3 linked regions of the Homo sapiens genome follow. The protein of the gene in region 2 purifies or fractionates together with the protein of the main gene of each other region. This does not show direct contact. Each region holds a gene or a part of one and is shown on either strand. Other genes may lie near its edges.

The links.
Region 1: the proteins of NBDY (region 2) and SEMA7A fractionate together in Homo sapiens (co-fractionation; one large-scale study listed by BioGRID). This does not show direct contact.
Region 3: the proteins of NBDY (region 2) and FAM185A fractionate together in Homo sapiens (co-fractionation; one large-scale study listed by BioGRID). This does not show direct contact.

Annotation. Positions count from the first base shown.
Region 1 is NC_000015.10:74,420,436-74,424,090, forward strand, and holds part of SEMA7A (semaphorin-7A isoform 1 preproprotein), read right to left. Parts: intron 293-3,655; exon of another isoform or gene 1-292. UniProt on the Homo sapiens protein: Plays an important role in integrin-mediated signaling and functions both in regulating cell migration and immune responses.
Region 2 is NC_000023.11:56,731,417-56,735,071, reverse strand, and holds part of NBDY (negative regulator of P-body association), read right to left. Parts: intron 3,010-3,655; 3' UTR 2,873-3,009; intron 1-2,872. UniProt on the Homo sapiens protein: Promotes dispersal of P-body components and is likely to play a role in the mRNA decapping process.
Region 3 is NC_000007.14:102,755,437-102,759,091, forward strand, and holds part of FAM185A (protein FAM185A), read left to right. Parts: exon of another isoform or gene 1-553; intron 554-2,417; coding exon 2,418-2,510; intron 2,511-3,655.

The sequences.
Region 1 (3,655 bases), on a different chromosome or scaffold from region 2:
ACAGAGAGAAGTGCTGAGCTCACTGTCCTTGGGTGGTGTGGCTCTCCTGGTGCACATCACAAACAGCCCAACTGAACAGCTCCGGGGATATCAGCCCTCCCTGGCCCCCAAGCCTCCCTCCCTGTAGGCCCGAGATGTGCAGAGCAAGGGCTGAGAGGTACTGGCACTTCGGTGGGAGGGAGGGAGAGCTGGCAGGTCTTGGGTGCTGCCCTGCTCCCCCTCCCTTCCTGGGATAAAATTAGAGTGCTGGGGTCACAGACACAGTCTTCCTGACTCAGCTCCCGTAACTCCCCTTCCACCCGCAGCCCAAACTGCAGCCACCATCCTCTGTGGCCCAGCCAGAGATCCAGACAGTCTGCCGCCCCAACTCCCCTCCTGCTCCCCTCCCATCCACCGATAGCCAGACTGGCAGCCAGGAAAAGGTGCGTGTCTGCATCTAGAGATGCTGGGCTAGGACCTGAGATCCATAGTCCCTGGGAGTCAAAGCAGAAAAGTTCTAGCCGTCAGACTGTGCTAGCCACCTTCATCAGTCACCTTAGCCCCACTCCTGCACCAAGGCCACAGGCCCAGGTCTCCGAGGGGGCCGGCAAGGCCAATGTACAACTACTCAAGGGAAAAGAGGCACCAGACAGGACTCTGGGTGGGGGCACCCTGGTCTAGGAATTGCAGGGCTGTTGAAGAGAAGAGGAAAACAGTCCTGCCCTGGGGAGTCGAGCCTGATGGCAGAGACATGACTGGGTCCTGGAGAGCAAGGTCTGAGGGGGAGGTCTGGCCCTACCCTGGGAATACATCTGAGGGGTCAGACAGCCACACCACAGAAAACTTCCACAGCTCTCCAGCAAAACTGTCTTAGCATGGACCCCAGGGCTGCCCACAAAGTATCTGCTGAAGACATGAAGGGAGGGTGAGGGCTGCTGGCCCCTGGGTAGGAGCTGCAGCACTAGGGCCCGGACAATCCCATGCGGATCTGCAAGCCTGAGCCCAGTTCCCTTCAAACCCTAGCCACAATGGCTAGGGTGGAGGAAGCAGGGACTGTTCGTCCCATTTTGCAGGAAAACGAACAGGAGCCCAGGACCACGGCCTCCCATGACCCCCAGGTTCCTGGCCCTCCCACCTCTGTTCTTGGTGATGCGTATGGACTAGAGGGAATGACACCAGCTCAGCCCCAGGACAAGGCCTTGGCCCATTCTCCACCCCAGCCCCAGCCTGGGCTCCCGCACCGCCTGAGGCCCTCAAAAGGCCTGATTGTGCCCGGGAAGTGTCGAGCAGCAGCAGCTCGATGAATACATGAAAGGAAGCTTTGTTCAGGTTGGCAGGAGCGGGGGCTGGGGGCTAAGGGGCAGGAGGGCTGCCTGGAAGTGAAGGCAGCACCAAGCCATCAGGGCCAGGCCTCGAGTCTCTGCCCAGGCAGGGGCTGAGCAAGGCCAGGGGCTACCCCTAAAAAGGCCAGGCCAAGGGAGTATGTATCATATCCCTGAACATTTTCTTTGTGATGCTTTATGAACCCAAACGGAGAGGTGAGGTAGATAAAAGCTGGATGGGCCCTGAACAGGCCGGGAGGGAAAGCCAGGCAGAGGACGCAACCTGAGCAAAGGTGGGGAAGGTGGCTGTATGGAGGACAGAGGCCATGCGCTGCAGCCTGGCAGAGTCCTAATGAGAAGAATCGGGAAGGTGAGCTGAGGCCCACGTGTGATGGGGGAGGGAAGATGCAGCCTGTCCAAGGACACACTGACCCACTGCCCACCACTCTCCCCTGCTGCCTGAACCTACGAGCAGGGCCAGGAGTGGAAAATGCCTCCCCATCCTCTGGCGTCCCCCACCTCCTGGCTCCCCCTGCTTCCCATCCTGCTTGTCTAAAAGGAGCACCGTCTGGCACCGTGTCCCCCCCTCACTCCCCAGCCTGACGCATTAGTGGCTAAGTGGTAGCTAAAAGCTCCCAGAATAACCAGGGGCTCAGGTAGGGGAGGGGGCTAGGGACATATGGGGAGGGCATAGCCCAGAGGCAGGCCAGGAACAAGACAACCCACCTCCCGCCCCATGTGATTCCGAGCCAATCCTCACTCGTGCTGGACCAAGAAAGCACATTCAGGCTGCCCCGTACCCAGCCGGACTCCATAGTTCCCCTGAGTACCATTTCTCATGGTGGCAGGGCCAGCAAGGCCCAGCTCCGGCCAGATAGGAGGGCTGCAAGGATGGCTGGGTTGTAGGAGATAACCTCCACCAGACACAGCCGCAGGGCCGGGTGCTCACAGGGCTCTGATCCCATTGGAAAGAATGGGGCCTGACTCCTTAGGGACCCTACCCTCGATCACCACCCCAGCAGCTGACCGACTGTGGCAAGTCTGGGCCTCTGGCATGCATTTCCTAACTCAGGCCTGCCTGGTGGAGCACGTTTCCTCTTCTCATTCACTCTGGTGCTGTCACCGTCTGGCCCGCTGTCCCCATACTCTTGTTGTTTGTGAAAGAGGAGTGCAGCTCCAGGGGAGGGCAGAGTGGGAGGTGTTGTTGTCCATGAAGGGGCTGGGTCCCATGCTCTGGTCTGGCAAAGCCAGCCTTGCAACCTGACCCACTGACCCAGTGGGCCTTGAATGTAACCTCAAGGAGCCTTTTGAAAGTGGGCAGAGAGTCAGGCTCTGAAAATGGCAGGAATGTGGGCACCCCCACAGAGAATGCCTAAGTCAGGCAGTCAGAGAGGCCCCGGGCCAAAGAGCAGAAAGCAGGCCGACCTCAGGTTGGAGAGCCAGCACATCTGGCAGGAGCGTCCTCCCACAGTTGTGCCCCCACCCCTGCACTGCCAGGCCTACCTCACACCCTCGCCCAACTACGTGTCTGGAAAAGAGAGTAGAGGGAAGGCCCACGTGATGCCTAGGAATTAGCCTGCAGCCTCTCCACCCTTTGGAATCCCACATCCACATGTCAAGGTGGAAGGGAGAGGATCTAAACAGTCATTGAACTGAAGGACACAGAGGCCAGAGAGGCTGTACCACCGGCCCAAGGACACAGAGCGAGGGAAGCTCCAAGTTTCCAGTACCCATTACCCAGCTGCTTCTCTCCAGGATCACATCCTGGGCTTCCTGGAGAGCCTCTGATTTGCAAAAAGCTGTATATTCAGCCTCTCCCTACTTCCCTGAATCATCCCTACTCTACCCTTCCCTCTCTTGCTCACTAGGTGCCGAGTCACTAACCTGATAACTAAAGGGAATCACCCGCCCACCCACCTTCCAGGTGAGGCCCTGATCTCCTAGGGGCCTTTAGTGATCAAAGCCTTAAATCCAAAGGAGTGACTAATGGTGGAAGTGTAGGTGCCGTGCATGTCAGAGTGGTAGAGGAAACCCTTCCACTAGGGGTGGGAATACAGGAACAAATGTTTCTGTCTCTCCTGATATGGCCAGGAAGAGGGTGTGAGAAGCCTGGTTTCCAGGGTGGCACCGGCTCGGTGCTAAGGATAGGTCATGGTTGCAGGTGGGTCCTGGCAACTCTCAGGCAGGGTTAGGTTCTAGATTAGCTAGTCGCCTGGCAGGGGCAGAGCCTGTGTGCTGGGGCAGGTGGTGGGGCCTCGAGACAGCACTCAGCTCATGGAGGACTGAGAAGTCTAACTTGTTTATGAGCTATGAGAAGAGCGAGCTGTGTGCTGGGCCAAAGGGGAGCATCCTCC
Region 2 (3,655 bases):
CTTGTTGTCCTGTAGACAGAATGGTAGAGTGATTCAGAGCTAATTCTGGGTTAGACTGCACAGGTCTGAATCTATTTGCTCACTGTGTAGTGCTTTAGGAATACAATTTAACCTCTCCGTGCTTCAGTTTCTTTGGCCCTAAGATAGAGCTAATGATAGAAACCAACTTTACACAGTTGTGAAAATTAACTGACTACATGTCAAACAGTCTCTGGCACATAGTATGCATAATGTAAATTATGTGATGAGAAGCGAGAAAAAATAACTTGGGAAAACACTGAATATCATCAAAGTTGAATAGCTAACCAGTAGCTAAAGTCCAAGGTCCCCTCTCTTCCTTCTATGTGGCACTCTTGTTTTTGGTCCATCTACTCCCCTTGGGTGTTACCTCCTTGAGTGAAGTACCTGCTGGAGATGAGAAGAGTGGAACTGGATCTGCATGACAGCTTTGATTAGGATGGAGCTAAGACTTGGTTATCTCCCTGTTTTGTGTTTTGGATGGGTGACATTTTAAAACTGCCAACATTAAAATCTTGCTAATTTGCTTTGTACAGTTTAAAATGTTTGATATCTTTTATTGTTTAAAGTTTGAGATTGGTTTTGAATATATGGTTTTCCTACATCTTGAAGAAGGATATGTTTGTTTGCTCTGAAGTGGTCTATGTTCTGTTTTTCTATTTTATTATACTTTGCAAAAAACAGATGGCTGGCTTATGTTCACTGTTGTAGTGCACTACCTAGTATCACTCAGCCTTCCTGTTGTCAAGGTGTAGGAAGCAGTGTAAGGGATGTTGGGCCTTCAGACCCCCAATTGCCAACTCTGGTCCTAGTTCCAGATTGCATGGACATATTTGATAACATTCCTGCACTGAGTTATCACGGTCTGAATATTTATGTGATGCTCTACGAGTGGTACCAAAATGTTAGTGATGGAATTTTCACTAATGGCACCTTTTCCTGTTTTTAAATTCTAGAATCTTAATAAATCCAAAGTGTACATTTTGGTAATGATTTCATTTAGCTATTTACTCTAAGGACTGCCTTTTAAAGCATTAACTCTGCAATAACTTTAACTTATGAAAAGATTCAGCAGTAAGAATAAAAACTAGGCCAAAGCACAAAGTAATAATCCTTCACAAATAAGATGGAGTTATAAAAATATGGGCATCCTGTGTGTAGCTTTGAAAATAACCGAAGTACTTGGAACTAAAAAGTTAGGTGAACATAAAAATTGTCATAACCAAATCCTTGACAGCTTGATGGATGAAAAGCAGATGGGTTTACACTGTATGGGAGGAGGCATGGATTTTAGGAAGGACAGCATCAGAGAGGGATGGTTAGAAAGTGAACAAGACACATTGCTCTTTGGAAAACAAGGAAAGTCCCTTAATTAGAACAAGGCATGAAATTCTGCCACTAGGTGGCGATGCCCTATAACTTTACAACTTAGGGTACATCACACCAGCACTATGGAAGGTTTCTCCATTCTGCACCCCACCAGCTCCCTCCCCTCCTTCATTTTTCAGGATGACAACACCTTAGAGGTTTATGGCCATCAGGAGAGTTTACTACTAAGCTATATACTGATCTAATGAAACCTAATATATGTTGTGCAATGAATTATGAGTTATTTAGTTTCAGGATTTTATTAATTCAATCAGTTATGACCATATTTCCTTTTATATGATTGTTCACTCTTTATACATACCAGATGACTGTATAAAGAACATCTAATAAAGTCTATAGATGTAAAAAAAATTAAAAAAGAAAAATAAGATAAAGTTAAACTAGAATGGGAATAATGTAATGATTTCATAATATATTTTTTAAAAAAGGAATCCCATATGATTAGAAATTGAAAAAAAACAAACCATGGGTCAAAAAAATCATAAGAGAAATTTAAAAATAATAAATATTGAATGATAAAAATACTATATATAAAAGTCTGTGAAATATTTCTAAAGTGGTAGAAGAAAATTTATAGTTCTAAATTCTTATTTTACAGAAGAACATTGAAAATTAAGATGCTAAAGATTCAACTCAATAAATTAGAAAAAGAACAATAAAAGGAAAGTAGAAGAAAGTTCAATATAAAAATAAAAGTCAAAATGATTAAAATAGGAACCAAATATCCAATGACGAGGCTCGATGAAAGCAAAAGCAAGAAATACATTAGAAAATTGATTATTGTAATTTATCACATGGTCACACTGTGATATTAATGGTGAAGAAAGGATATGAAAGTGGCAGTACATATAGACGGGAAAAAACTTCATAATATTTGTAATAAAACCTCTCAGCAAACTAGGAACATTAAGAAAGTTCCTTAACTTGAGAAAGACAATCTACTAAAAAAGGTGAAACTTTTGTAGAATTTAGGAACAAAATAAGGAAATCCTCTACCAATGCTGTTGTTCCTCTTTGTACTGAAGATCCTAGCTAGCACAGTAATATAAGGTAAAGAAATATTGTAAAGAAACTGTCATTATTCAAAATATAATTAATTAACAGATAATCCAAGAAAATCTATACATTATTAGAATAAACAGAATTTAAGAAGGCTCCAGCATATAAAATAAATATACAAAAATATCAATCATGTTCCCATTTACTAGAAACAATTAGAAAATGTAGTTAAAAAGATGATATATTTCACAGTAATAATAGAAACTATAAGTACAAGTGAATCTAACAAAACATTTCTTCAGATTACACTATTATTATGAATATGTTTTCATATAATGTAGAATATAGTTTCAATTTTATCATTTGCTGCTATCTTTTTGAGTTTTGTTTGGCTACTTTTTAATGTGTCAAAACCAACTCTTTTTTTTCTCTTCCTCCTCTTAATAATTTTTGGTAAAGAGATTACCTTAAAAAGCACAACTTCCAGGTTCAGGACACCAGAAAAAGCAGGGTAGCATTGTAAATAATCTTCATTGTTTTCACCAGGTGAACTATTATATGAATGCACCAGGGAAATGGAGTCATACTGCAATCACTCAAAGACTGAAAAATAGTAAAAAATATTGTGGCATCATTTTTTCTGTTTTTGTCCATCTCTTTGTCCCTTGGTCTCCTCAAATCATTATCCTTCCCATACCTCTATTTCAATGATTTATTCCTATAAAACAGTTGTATACATAGTATTAGAAGGGATGTATTATATAGAAGTTTAGAGCATAAACTCTGGAATCAGGTGTTCTGGGTTCAAAGCTCAGCTCAGCTACTTCTTGCTGTGTAACTTGTGGCAAGTCATACAACTTCCCTTGGTCTATACAAACTTCTCTAGTAGAGTTGTGATTAAATAAATTATAACATGCAAAGCCCTTTAGAAAATTGGCACATAAATCTTCAGTAAATATTGGCTATTATTACAATTATCAGTGATTTGAATCACTTGGAGGGGAAATTATGTAGCTACTGCACTTATTGTTTTGTTCTTTTGTTTTCTTTTCTTTTTCCTTTTTATTTTTTAAAATTATTTATTTATTTATTTTTTACACCGAGTCCCGGTCTGTCGCCCAGGCTGGAGTGCAGTGGCATGATCTCGGCTCACTGCAATCTCTGCCTCCTGGATTCAAGCGATTCTCCTAATTCAGCGTCCCGAGTAGCTGGGATTATAGGCACACAACACCATGACCGGCTATTTTTT
Region 3 (3,655 bases), on a different chromosome or scaffold from region 2:
CTGGCCCACAAATACAGACCAGAGACAAAGCAAGAGAAGAAGCGGAGGCTGTTGGCCCAGGCAGAGTTGTGGGCAAAGGGGACCTCCCCATTAAGAGACCACCTGTCTTTCGAGCAGGAGTTAACACCATCACCACCTTTGTGGATAACAAGAAAGCTCCGCTGGTGGTGACTGCACACGACATGGATCCCATTGAGCTGACTGTTTTCCTGCCTGTCCTGTGTCATAAAATGGGAGCCACTTGCTGCATTATCAAGGGGAAGGCAAGACTGGGATGTCTAGTTCACAGGAAGACCTACACCACTGTCGACTTCACACAGGTTAACTCAGAAGACAAAGGAGCTTTGGCTAAGCTGATGGAAGCTATCGGGACCAATTACAATGCCAGATACGATGAGACCCACTGTCACTGGGACGGCAATGTCCTGGGTCCCAAGTCTGTGGCTCACATTGCCAAGCTCGAAAAGGCAAAGGCTAAAGAACTTGCCACTAAACTGGGTTAAATGTACACTGTTGTGTTTTCTGTACATAAAAATAATTAAAATAATTAAAAAATAAAAAAAAGTGCTTTGTGGATAGTCTTTTCAAAGGTTTATCACATATTTGATAAGGAGTATATTAAATATAATTTGACTTCAGACTCATGTCTCTGGGCATAACGTAGTTAACCATGCTATAGTACAGATTTTTTTTCTCTAAGAGACAGGGTCTTGATGTGTTGCCCACGCCGGAGTGCAGTAGCACGATCCTAGCTCACTGAATCCTCAAACATCTGGGCTCAAGTGATCCATATCTCTTTATGTAACAAAACTAAAGACGTATATAATGATTAAGGGAAAACATCTGGGCTCAAGTGATCCATATCTCTTTATGTAATAAAACTAAAGACATATATAATGATTAAGGGAAAATAAACTACTCTAAAAAAAAATCAGACTAGGCCGGGTGCAGTGGCTCATGCCTGTAATCCCAGCACTTTGGAAGGCTGAGGCGGGTGGATCACGAGGTCAAGAGATCGAGACTATCCTGGCCAACACGGTGAAACCCCATCTCTACTAAAAATACAAAAAATTAGCCTGGCGTGATGGCATACGCTTGTAGTCCCAGCTACGTGGGAGGCTGAGGCAGGAGAATCGCTTGAACCCAGGAGGTGGAGCTTGCAGTGAGCCGAGATCTCACCACTGCACTTCAGCCTGGGCGACAGAGCGAGACTCTGTCTAAAAACAAAAACAAAAAACAATAGACCAAACATCTAATGGCTCATATATAATATGAGTTTATTTCTTACTTGTGTCCAGGTGTATGGGTGGGTCTTTTTCATTCAGTGATTCTAGGTTCCTTCCGTCTTCCGGCTCTGCCATCTTTTAGAGCCTTGTTATATTCTGGACCCACTTGGTGGAATGAGAAGAGCACAGAGAAGGCACACTTGTTCTAAAAGCACCAACCTGGAAATGGCATATAGCATTTCCACTTACGTTATGTTGGTAACAACTTAACAACACCTAAGAGGTAAAGGAAGCTGGAAAATGTGGTCTTGCCATGGGTCAAGCTATACTGCTTTTACTTTGGAAAAAAATGGATTTTGATGAGCCAATAGTAGTGTTTGCCATAGTTCTCAAGTCCAAAATCAAGTCACTCACACACACACACATACACATACTTTTGTTTTCTGTCTTGCAGAATAGGCTAACTGGCTTGTGACTGCTGTTTTGTGCTCGGAGGCATTTTTACTTAGTTTCTGGGATGTGTTGTGCTAGAAGGTTTAAGTGGGCTGTTAACCTAATGTGTATTCTGTCCTTCAGACCGGTCCAGCGTTAAGAGTGTGGGCTTTGGAATCATACAGAACTTGATTCTAATTGTTACTTTAGATTTTGGGTTTTTTTCTGTGTCACCCTGATAAAGTGATTTACCTTTCTGAATCTTGGCATTCTTCCTCTGTAAAATGGGAAAAATGTAATACTTATCTCTCTGGTTTGTCGTGAGGATTAAATGATAGTTCATGTGAAGTAGCTAACATGGTATCTGGTGCAGAGAAAATGCCAAATAAGTGATAACTATTATTGTTATTAATGATGAATAGTAACTGATTATTATTGTCATCTTCATCACTGTGGATATTTAGTTAGCTGGTCACAGTGATTTTTGATTCCCAAGTCCTTCATCAGTGAAGCTACCAGAATACCCAAGTATCTCTTGTTTTTCCCTTAGAGTCCAAGTGGCTTATTTAATCCCTTTAACAGCAGTTGACATTTTTTTCCAGTTGATGTCATTATTCGAAGCAGTGAGTTTCTATTTCATTCCTTATTGTTCTTTTGTTGCTTTGTCAGTATTAATACAGAAATATTGAAAATGTTTCACTAGTATAAGTCACACTTACTCTCTTTTTCACTATATGTATTTTTAAATTTGTCTTTCAGGGTCAAAAATTGCATGTTCAAACAAAAGGAGGCAAAGTGATCTGTCTGGGAACAGTTTATGGAAATATAGATATTCATGCATCAGATAAAAGTGTAAGATTGAAACTTTCTTTTTTTTTTTAGTAATTGCAACTTTGCTTCCATTTGGCTCACCAAGTTGGTAGGTTCTACAAAGTTCGTAGCATAACATTCCCTTTTTAATGCATTTTAGTTCATAAGTAAATTCAAATTTGAAATTGAAGTGATGAAATAATATACAACTTAAGTTTTAGTTTGTGGTTTAATACTTTTGACAGTTACTTAGTTCCTAGTCTGGAATCAATAAAAACTTAAATGCTTACTATTTAACTCTAGTTCTGAAAAGATTTTTATTTTTATCATCATAGATTAAAATAGATGATTAAGTAATATCACCAGTAACTGGATTGGATTTTTCTTGTGTTAGGTTTATTTGAGTATTTTCTAAGACCTTTTTACTTCGCCCTTAGGCAAATTGAAGGATGTTTCAAAACTCAGCTTTCTTCAGTATTTTCCACAAGGTGGCACCATTAGATAGCTTTACTGCTCTCACAGCTTTTTTTTTTTTTTTTTTTTTTTTTTTTTTTTATAGTAGCTATTGGGATTTTTGTTGTTATAGGAAGATAGTTGGTATTTTTTAATCAACTCCTTTTGTAGCTTTTGGTTATTTAGCATAGTATTAAGAGTAAAGGTATAATTTTGGAATTATAAATTGTCATTTAAAAAATGTGATTGATAATGTATCTTTGAGAAAAAGTTTCCTTTTATTTTACACTTATACAATTTGCAAGAGCTTTTTTGTTTCTTATAAATTTGCTAAATTCCATAGTCAGCTTTATTTTCAGATAATTGGTGGGGAGGAGTTGCAAGCATATTTTGTATGTAGATTATTGTTGGCATAATTAAACAAGATAGACTATAACAGTAATTGTTTCTGTTGTTTTATCTTCCATCACCTTCCTACAAATTTGCTATATTCCATGGTCACTTTATTTTCAGAGTTGGTGGGGAGGAGTTGTGAGCACATTTTATATGTAGATTATTGTTGGCATAATTAAACAAGGTAGGTTATAACAGTAATTGTTTCTGTTGTTTTATCTTCCATCACCTTTCTCTTAGACCCCGTGGGAGGTTGTTTAAACCTAAACATTTAAAAATACTCTGTAAATTATACTAGGAAAGTGTTGAAAGACACTGTGTGGCCTTATGCTGCAGCTTTT